Regions from separate parts of the Homo sapiens genome. Here region 2 is linked to region 1. Evidence: fine-mapped expression QTL. A gene starts in region 1. The other region holds a variant in brackets. All regions are shown on one strand. Distances are between the middles of the regions. Region 1 holds the start of SCPPPQ1 (secretory calcium-binding phosphoprotein proline-glutamine rich 1). Region 2 overlaps SPARCL1 (SPARC like 1).

The links. PIP is the estimated chance that this variant, and not a neighbour inherited with it, causes the effect. A credible set is the group of variants that fine-mapping cannot tell apart.
Region 2: its variant is the best candidate, but not a certain one, in a credible set for the expression of SCPPPQ1 in aorta (GTEx, PIP 0.67).

Annotation. Positions count from the first base shown.
Region 1 is chr4:87,469,343-87,473,748 of GRCh38, reverse strand. SCPPPQ1 (secretory calcium-binding phosphoprotein proline-glutamine rich 1) reads left to right here and starts at 2,699. Exons shown (of 10, transcript NM_001405228.1): 1 at 2,699-2,732; 2 at 3,092-3,121; 3 at 4,087-4,157. The coding sequence starts at 4,101. It overlaps SPARCL1 (SPARC like 1), which reads left to right. Exons shown (of 11, transcript NM_004684.6): 11 at 1-414.
Region 2 is chr4:87,507,275-87,511,680 of GRCh38, reverse strand. The region is part of intron 1 of SPARCL1 (SPARC like 1); the gene reads left to right. Among named protein-coding and RNA genes, the nearest start is that of SPARCL1, 20 kb to the left of the region's middle. RefSeq lists an enhancer at 296-796. The variant G/T (reference allele first, on the strand shown) is at 2,437.

The DNA.
Region 1 (4,406 bases):
CCAGCATCCTCCTCTGTTCTAACCACTTCAGAAATATATGCAGCTGTGATACTTGTAGATTTATATTTAGCAAAATGTTAGCATGTATGACAAGACAATGAGAGTAATTGCTTGACAACAACCTATGCACCAGGTATTTAACATTAACTTTGGAAACAAAAATGTACAATTAAGTAAAGTCAACATATGCAAAATACTGTACATTGTGAACAGAAGTTTAATTCATAGTAATTTCACTCTCTGCATTGACTTATGAGATAATTAATGATTAAACTATTAATGATAAAAATAATGCATTTGTATTGTTCATAATATCATGTGCACTTCAAGAAAATGGAATGCTACTCTTTTGTGGTTTACGTGTATTATTTTCAATATCTTAATACCCTAATAAAGAGTCCATAAAAATCCAAATGCTTATGCAAGTGTATTTCCAGTTATTATTTAGACAATCAAATGTAAAAGATCAACCCAAGACTCACACTTCATGTCAAATTATAATTGTGCTTCCTAAACCCTACTACCTTAAGTGTGTGTGTGTGTGTGTGGTTGAGAAAAAAGTGTGAGACATCTCTTACAGGAAACAAATACTCAGTGGCAAGATAAGAGGTGCTCATTAATGTCCTTCATCATTATGTAAGTTTAAACAGAAAAAAACTAATATCAAGTGCTTTTTTACCAAATTTGATATAAAATGTAGAACAAGCTGGGTGCAGAGGCTCACACCTGTAATCTCAACACTTTGGGAAGCCAAGTCGGGAGGATTCCTTGAGCTCAAGATTTCAAGACCAGCCTAGGCAACATGGAGAGACCCTGTCTCTATGAAAACTTAAAAAAATAGCCAGGGGTGGTGGCATGTACCTGTGATCCCAGCTACTTGGTGGACTTAGGTAGGAGAATTACTCGAGCCCAGCAGGTCGAGGCTGCAGTGAGCTATTGTGCCACTGCACTCCAGCCTGGGTGACAGGGCAAGGCCCTGTCTCAAAAAATAAATAAATGAAAATAAAATGTGAAAGATTATGCACTGCTTGATCCAATTAATTCTAACTTTTTGTGCAGTTGAGCATGTGTGCTGGGGAAGAGGGCGGCCCTGCAAAAATTTCACATAATCATTGCCTCACAATAAAGAAAATGTAATGGTAAAACAGGTAGAGGGCCATAAAGCGTCTTGATGTCCAATGTAGAAAGAGATTAAATATTATTAATGTAAATTGATAGCGAAAAACCTGTCATAAGCAAAAATTTGTCTTTTTATTTGCGCTCTTCTTTGGTAACTATTACAGTAAAAGCTAGATCACAAAAATATGACATTATAATATAGTTTTCCAAGTTCTGAAGTAAGGCAATAAAAGGACATGTCACTCACTTTATTTGACTATTTGAAAGAAAATGGTTTTTTACATATTTTTCTAGCTGAAATGAAAGATATCAATACAATTATCTTTTACTATTTTTTCAAATAATCAAAAATGTGTTGTTGTTGTTGTTGTTGTTACAAACCTTATCTGTGATAGTCACTGAGAGAACATGCCCCTAGGAATTTTATCTGAAAGATATTTACAGAATAGTTTATTTTTTTATCAGAATAATCTTCTCTGAGTATTTCAAAATTTCATTCGTTATCTCTTTCATAGCTCAATAAATTACTTATTCTTTTTTTTTTTTTTTTTGAGATGGAGTCTTGCTCTGTCACCCAGGCTGGAGTGCAGTGGCACAATCTCAGCTCACTGCAACCTCTGCCTCCTGGGTTCAAGAGATTCTCCTGCCTCAACCTCCTCAGTAGCTGGGATTACAGGCGTGCGCCACCACGCCCAGCTAATTTTTGTATTTTTAGTAGAGACGAGGTTTCACCATGTTGGTCAGGCTGGTCTCGAACTCCTGACCTCGTGATCCGCCCACCTCGGCCTCCCAAAGTGCTGGGATTACAGGCGTGAGCCACCACACCTGGCCAATTACCTTAACTAGAACCATATCATACTATGTCCTTTCTAAAAAATTAAGTTCAATTTGATTAATCAAAATCGAATTAAGTATTATTTGTAACTTTTTCCAACTACAGAAATAATTTTAGGAACTATTCCAAATTTCAGAACGTTTTTATATGAAGCTGAAAAGGTCTTAGCTAATTACAAACTAGGTTGCTGGGAACAGTGAAGTTGTATTCAGAGGTATTAATTAGGCCTAAATTATCTTTTACCCTCAGACAACTTTCAAAAATATTTTAGAATAGTGAAAAGTGATTTTAACACCAAGGTAAGGAAACCACCTCAATATCTACTAAAAAATTTTGTTTGAAAATAATATTCATTTTGAAATGAAAAATATTTAATAAGAGAAAATCTCAAACCTTAAATTTCTGTATCATTTAAGGCTCTTACATGTACAGCTAGCTCATCTATTATAGAGGCACGTTAATATTCTTGGTGGTCACAATTTTTAATTGTGGGTTGTTTGTGATAAAGACATACTCTAATCCCAACCTAAGAGATTATTTTCTCAGTTATTTTCTCAGTAATCAGTCTGTAAGTCTACCTCTGTGTAATTGAGATATTTTGGAAGTTGGAGCTCCTGGTGTGAAAGCAATTATTCAGTTTAGCTTTGAATTTTGTGACTCATATTGCCCATAACCATAAAGGCATTAGTAACATGGCTTAAATACTAGATGGGCATAGAGATTCTAGGTGATCACACTGCTCCTTGAATTTGTTGCTCCAAGGGCCACTGAAGCAAAGGTAATTGAAGAGATATATAGTATAATTTGGACTGATTCTAATGCACTAGATAAAAGAATGTAACATATTCTTGTATTGGGTAATTTAATGATTTCTAACAGGTCCACTTCTAATAAGAAGAAAGAAATTAGTGTTTGAATCCAGAAAGAAGAAAAATACAAAGAAAAAACATGAAAAAGGAAAAGGGAAATAAGTTGCCTAAATTCAGGCAAAGTAGCACTAAGATTGAAATCAGAGTTGGGTTTTAGATATATATAACAGATGAAGTGTGATTTATAGATATAACTTGCCTCAAATGCTGGAGATAAGTCTTAATAATAACATGATAAAGTTGTTTTTCTTTCAAAATCCAATTCCAGAATACAGTGATTTGGTTTGAAACTCACAAGGTAAGTTAATTTGAATTAAGTGCGATTTTTAAAACATAAAAATGTCTCCTTTCAGAACCAATGGACCAATAAAAGGCCAGTTGATTTCCTTTATTGAATCTGAATTTACTCATATTGTGCTGATTTTCTACCAACCCATTACATCTTACAAAATTTTTCCCATACAATTTCCTTCCCGAGAACTATAACTGGCAATAACAGCAACCAGACTATATGAAGGCCTGGTAAGTCTCACAGAGGTACAAGCTTCAGGTGGATTTATTTGTGTATTACATAAAAACTTTCCTCTCATTTTAGCCAGTAGTGATCAATTACTAATAATAAGCATGATGTAACACTGGTGTTTAAAGATTTGTGAGTAGAATTGAGCACAGTGGCTCACACCTGTAATCCCAGCACTTTGGAAGGCTGTGGTGGGAAGGTTGATTGAGGCCAGAAGTTCAAGACCATCCTTGCAACAGGGGGGCAACATAGCAAGACCCCATCTCTAAGAAAATTTTTTTAAAATTAGCCAAGTGTGGTGGTGCACACCTGTAGTCCTAGCTCCTTGGGAGACTGAGGCAGAAGGATCACTTGAGCCCAGCAGTTCGAGGGTACAGGAGGCTATGATTGTGCCACTGCACTCCAGCCTGAGTGACAGAGCAAGACCCTGTCTCAAAAAAAAAAAAAAAAAAAAAAAAGATTTGTGTGTAGAGATCACAAACGCAACTTCAGGGACCAAACATGTACAGTGTATAGGCCGAACTGTAACTTTATAAGAAAGTAGAAAGTAATGGGCTATGTTGGGAGCTAAACAGTGCATGTCTTGTCTAAGGAATTCAAAGCTTTTAAAAACACTCTTGTAGGCTTACAAAACCTATGTTTGGAGGCAGGATTTATCTTGACCACTATTTCAACACCTCTAAATAGGAATAGGACTTACATAGAAAAAAACTCGAAATGATCTCCTACCCCTTCAATTCCAGGCTCGACCTTTAGAATGAAATTTCTCATCTTGGCTGGCCTTTTGAGCACTGCCACTGCTCTGCCCATCCCCGTGAGTACACCCTCCTCAGCTGCTGACTCAATTTCAGATTTAGAGTCATCGCATTTCTCGGCTAGAAAGCAGGTCTTATCTTTTCATTTCACAAAAGAGGAAAGCGGAACCCAGGAAAGTCATAGAACTAGGAGTTCACCACTCTTTGTCAGTCCAAGACTCTGCCCAGTACAAATCTCAGCTCCATATGCCATGTGCTAGCTGTGTGACTTTGAACTAACCCATGGTTTCCTTGTCTATAAAATGAGT
Region 2 (4,406 bases), 38 kb before region 1:
GTTTGCTTTGAACTCTCTGTGACATTTAACACTTCCCTTTTCTCATGTGACTCTTCTTTCTCTCACTGTTTGTATCTTTAGCTCTTCCCATCCTCTGATGGTGCCTAATGATCTTCACTCCCCAGGGTTCTGGCTCCAGCTCTCTGCTCAACTGGTTGAATAACTGCTCATGCTACAGCATGCAAGCTACATCTGTAACCCCAAACTCCATGCTTACCTCCAGACCTATCTACCCAAGTATCTACTAGATATCTCTACTCAAATTCAACAAGCCCAAAACTAATCCACCGTCTGTCTTCTAAAACCAAACCTTCCTCCTATAATCCTTCACCTTGGTAATTAATACCACCATTTACTAAGTTGTTCATATGAGAAATGTGACTCAAGACTTTTCCTTCTCATATTCCTACAATATCTAATTCGTCATTAAGTTTTATCTGTTCTTTTTTTAATTATTTCTTAGAACTATCCAGTTGTGTTTTGGTAAATGAGCAACCCATTCTCTGAGAGAGGGAGAGGTGGGTGACACTTGATGGTTTTCATGGTGTGACTGATCCTCCCACCACAACTGATTTTGATGCAGGATATTTTCTTGACCCCTTCACGGAACTCGCGGCAGGGGTGCCTTGTTTACTCAGCCCGCCCTGCTCAATCCCTTGCAGGAGGGAGTGCGCAAGCGAATGACTGCAGGAACCTGAGCGAGCGAAGGCAGGAACTGGCCACTTTGGCACCAGCAGGAGCAAACTCCATGTGGGCCCCTCACCAGCGTCCAGGTGTGGGCACCAGCCACGCCAAGCCCCAGAGGGCGTGTAACCATACTCTTAGCTCCACCGTCCGCAGACAGCAGTGTGTTATCAGCTCAGTGAGCCCTTTGCCTCATCACGTAGGGCAACTGCCTTCCGCCAGCAAGGGCAAAGGGCCAGTGCGACCGCCTTTTTGGATACCTGCACGTAGTGTGTCCGAGTTCTTGTCCAGTGCCCAAGAGGAATGAGGTCACACAGATGAATTGAAGGATGGCGAATGTGGAGAATTTTTTTTTTCAGTGACGAAAGCGGCTCTCAGTGGAGAGGTGAGCTGGAAAGGGAATGGGAAGGGAAGATCCCTCTCCTCTGAAGTCAAGCCACCTCTCTCCTATGTCCAGGCGCTTCTTCTCGACATCAGGCTGCTTCTTCCCTCTGCTGGCTGAGTTCTGGGGTCTTTATGGGCACAGGATGGGGACGGGGCAGGCCGTAGGTAGTTTTGGAAAAGGCAATATTCAATTGGTAAAAAGACAGTATTCAGAAATAACCAATCGGGAGAGAATGGAAGTTCTCACTTTGGGCTGTGGGTTTCAGGCTTTTCGGCTTGAAGGTGGGATTTTGCCAGCGACCCGCCCCTGTATGCCTACAGTTTCTCTGCCTCCTGTTGCTATCAATTTTAAGCTACCAACATGACGCCACTGAACAGAATCGGGAAGAGACATGCGGAACACATATTATATAGTATTTCCACCAACAGATATAATAGATGTAAATAACCTCAAAAGAGTAGATAATAGTAAAATAATTATGAAGTGATGAGTTTCTACTATTTTCTTTGCTTTTAACATAATTAAATTATACATGTATGTAATTTAATTTTTAATTGATGACTTTAACAACCAACTCAAAAAAGTCTTGAAATGTAACAAACAGCTCTCACAAACCAGTACAGGTTGGATCTATCCCTCTTTTCTCCACTCCTAAGACCACAGCCCAAATGTAAGGCTCTGACCACCTCACCTTGATGTTACAATTGTCTCTCACAGGTCATGCTACTGGTCTGTCCTCCACACAGCTGTCACACATACAAATCTGGTTATATCATCACCCCTGTCCACACATGTGTGCACACACACAGACATACACACATGCGTGCACACACAGACACTTACAATAATTCTTTGGGTCCCTATAGCTCTATGGCTGGAATTTTTAATTCCTTGTTTAATGCACTATGACTTTTACAATATGGCTATCTGCTTACTTTTGAGCCTTATCTACCCCAGCCCACTTCCCCTATTGACAGCCTAGAGACCCAAATATTAACATCCTAGAGACTCGATGCTTCTGCAACTTCACCCATGCTGCTGCCTGCCACCCTCTAGAGTACATCTAGCTGTGTGAGAACATCCTTCATACAGCTAACTACTGTTTATTAGTTTTCAAACCTCAGATCAAGAATTACCTTCTCTGGAGGTCATCTCTATACAGTAGTTAAGAACACTGTAGTTAAGAACACAGACAGACCTGATATCAAACAGAAGTGTTAAATATCTGCTGTGCCACTTCCTAGCTGTGTAACCCTGAACAAGTTACTTAATCTTTATGCCCGAGTTTCCTTACTAGTGAAATGATTACAATAATGTGCTTACCTGATAGAACTGTTCAGAAGGTTTAAAGAATATGTGTGTGCAAA[G/T]CTCTTAGAATAGTGCCTAGAACTTAAGTACTTTGGATGTAGTAAAGTTAGCTATTATCAACTACCTAATTTAAAAATGCCTCCTATCTCTCTTTCCATTGCATTATGTACATAATCATCACATTACACTATATGATTTTATATAAATATATTATATATTTATAGATACATTATTAGTATATACATATATAGATACGTGTATATAATACATATATAGATACATGTATATAAGTATATAGATTATATATGTACACATATAGTATACATTTAGCCCTCAACCTGTGGGATCTGACACTATCTCCAGGTGCACATACATAGTATATACACATATGTATACTATATATATATATATATACTTATATACATGTATCTATATATGTATATATTTATCTATATACGTATCTACATTACATACATATATGTATCTATACACACACACACACACACACACACACACACACATATGTTTCATCCACGGTTCCTGTCTCATAATTCCCATAGACCTTTTTATAATGTTATAATGTTGGTGCATTTTAGGCCTCATAAGCGGACCTCAGAATAACAGGATTTCTCTCTCTCTAATCTTCTATTTTTTTACCTGCTACTTTTTCTCCCCAAGGCAGGACTCTAATCTTCCTCTGCCTTTACCTACCTTGTGTGATTGTAGGTCATAAGACCCCCATTTCAGAAGGGGTTCTGCCCCATATTCTGGAGGAAGGAATGTTGCATGGAGAGGCCAAGAAGAGGCCCAGCACAGTGATCCATGTCTGTAATCTCAGCACTTTTGGAGGCCAAGATGGGACAATCGTTTGAGCCCAGGAGTTCAAGACCATCCTGGGCAACATAGGAAGATCCTGTCTCTACAGAAAAAAAAAAAATTAATTACCCAAGTGTGGTGGCAATCACCTGTAACCTCAACTACTTGGGAGGTTGAGGTGGGAGCATGCTTGGGCCCAGGAGGTCAAAATCACGCCACTGCACTCCAGCCTCACAGTCAGAGTGAGACCCACCTCAAAGGAAAAAAAAAAGAGGCCAAAAAGAATCTGAACAGATGGGCCTTACCGGGTTTCCCCACTCAGCCTTTGAGTACTAAAGCATACCCTTTTTGTCTAAACACATTTCTATGTGGTTGTCAATGGTGCCTATCCTTTCATGAAGTCTCCATAAAAGGCCCAAGGGGACGAGGTTTGAAGAAATTACAAGATAACTGAACCTATGGAGGTTCCTAGAGGGTGTGTTCCGGGGAGGGCTTGGCAGCTCTGTGCCCCTTCCCCCATACCTCACCCTTTGCATCTCTTCACTTGTATCTTTTTGTAATATCCTTTATTATAAACCAGTAAATCTAAGTAGGTGTTTCCCTGAGTTCTGTGATGCACTCTAGCAAATTAATCGAACCCCAAGAGGGAGTCATGGAAGCCCAACTTGAAACCAGTCAGCCAGAAGTTCTGGAGGCCTGATCTTGTGACTGGTATCTGGGAAAGGGAAGATGTCTTGTGAGACTGAGCCCTCAACCTATGGGATCTGACGCTATCTCCAGGTACACAGTGTCAGAATTCATTTGGAGGACACTCAGCTGGTGCCTGCTGCAGAGTTGATTGCTTGCATGTTGATGACAAAAAATCTCCCACATTTGGTCACAGAAGTCTTCTGTGTTGATTGTAGCGTGGTGTGAGACCACAGGAAAAGCAGTTAGAGATTTTCCACACCCAGAAACTCTTAAGAGAGAAACTATGTGTCCTTGTGCTTAGGCAGTGTCTAGTAAGTACTCAATGAATGAATTTAAAAAAAATGGATTAGTGATGCAAGTTCTGGCCAACTGGACATTCTTTCCTTTTGATTCATTCAGCTACATTTAGATTTAGGGAAATGAAGGGAACTTGTGAGATCATGTGAGATCATGCGGACAGATTAAAAGGGAAATATTTTCTCAAATTTAATTAGTTATGCATGTTGCTGCAACAAACAAAAAG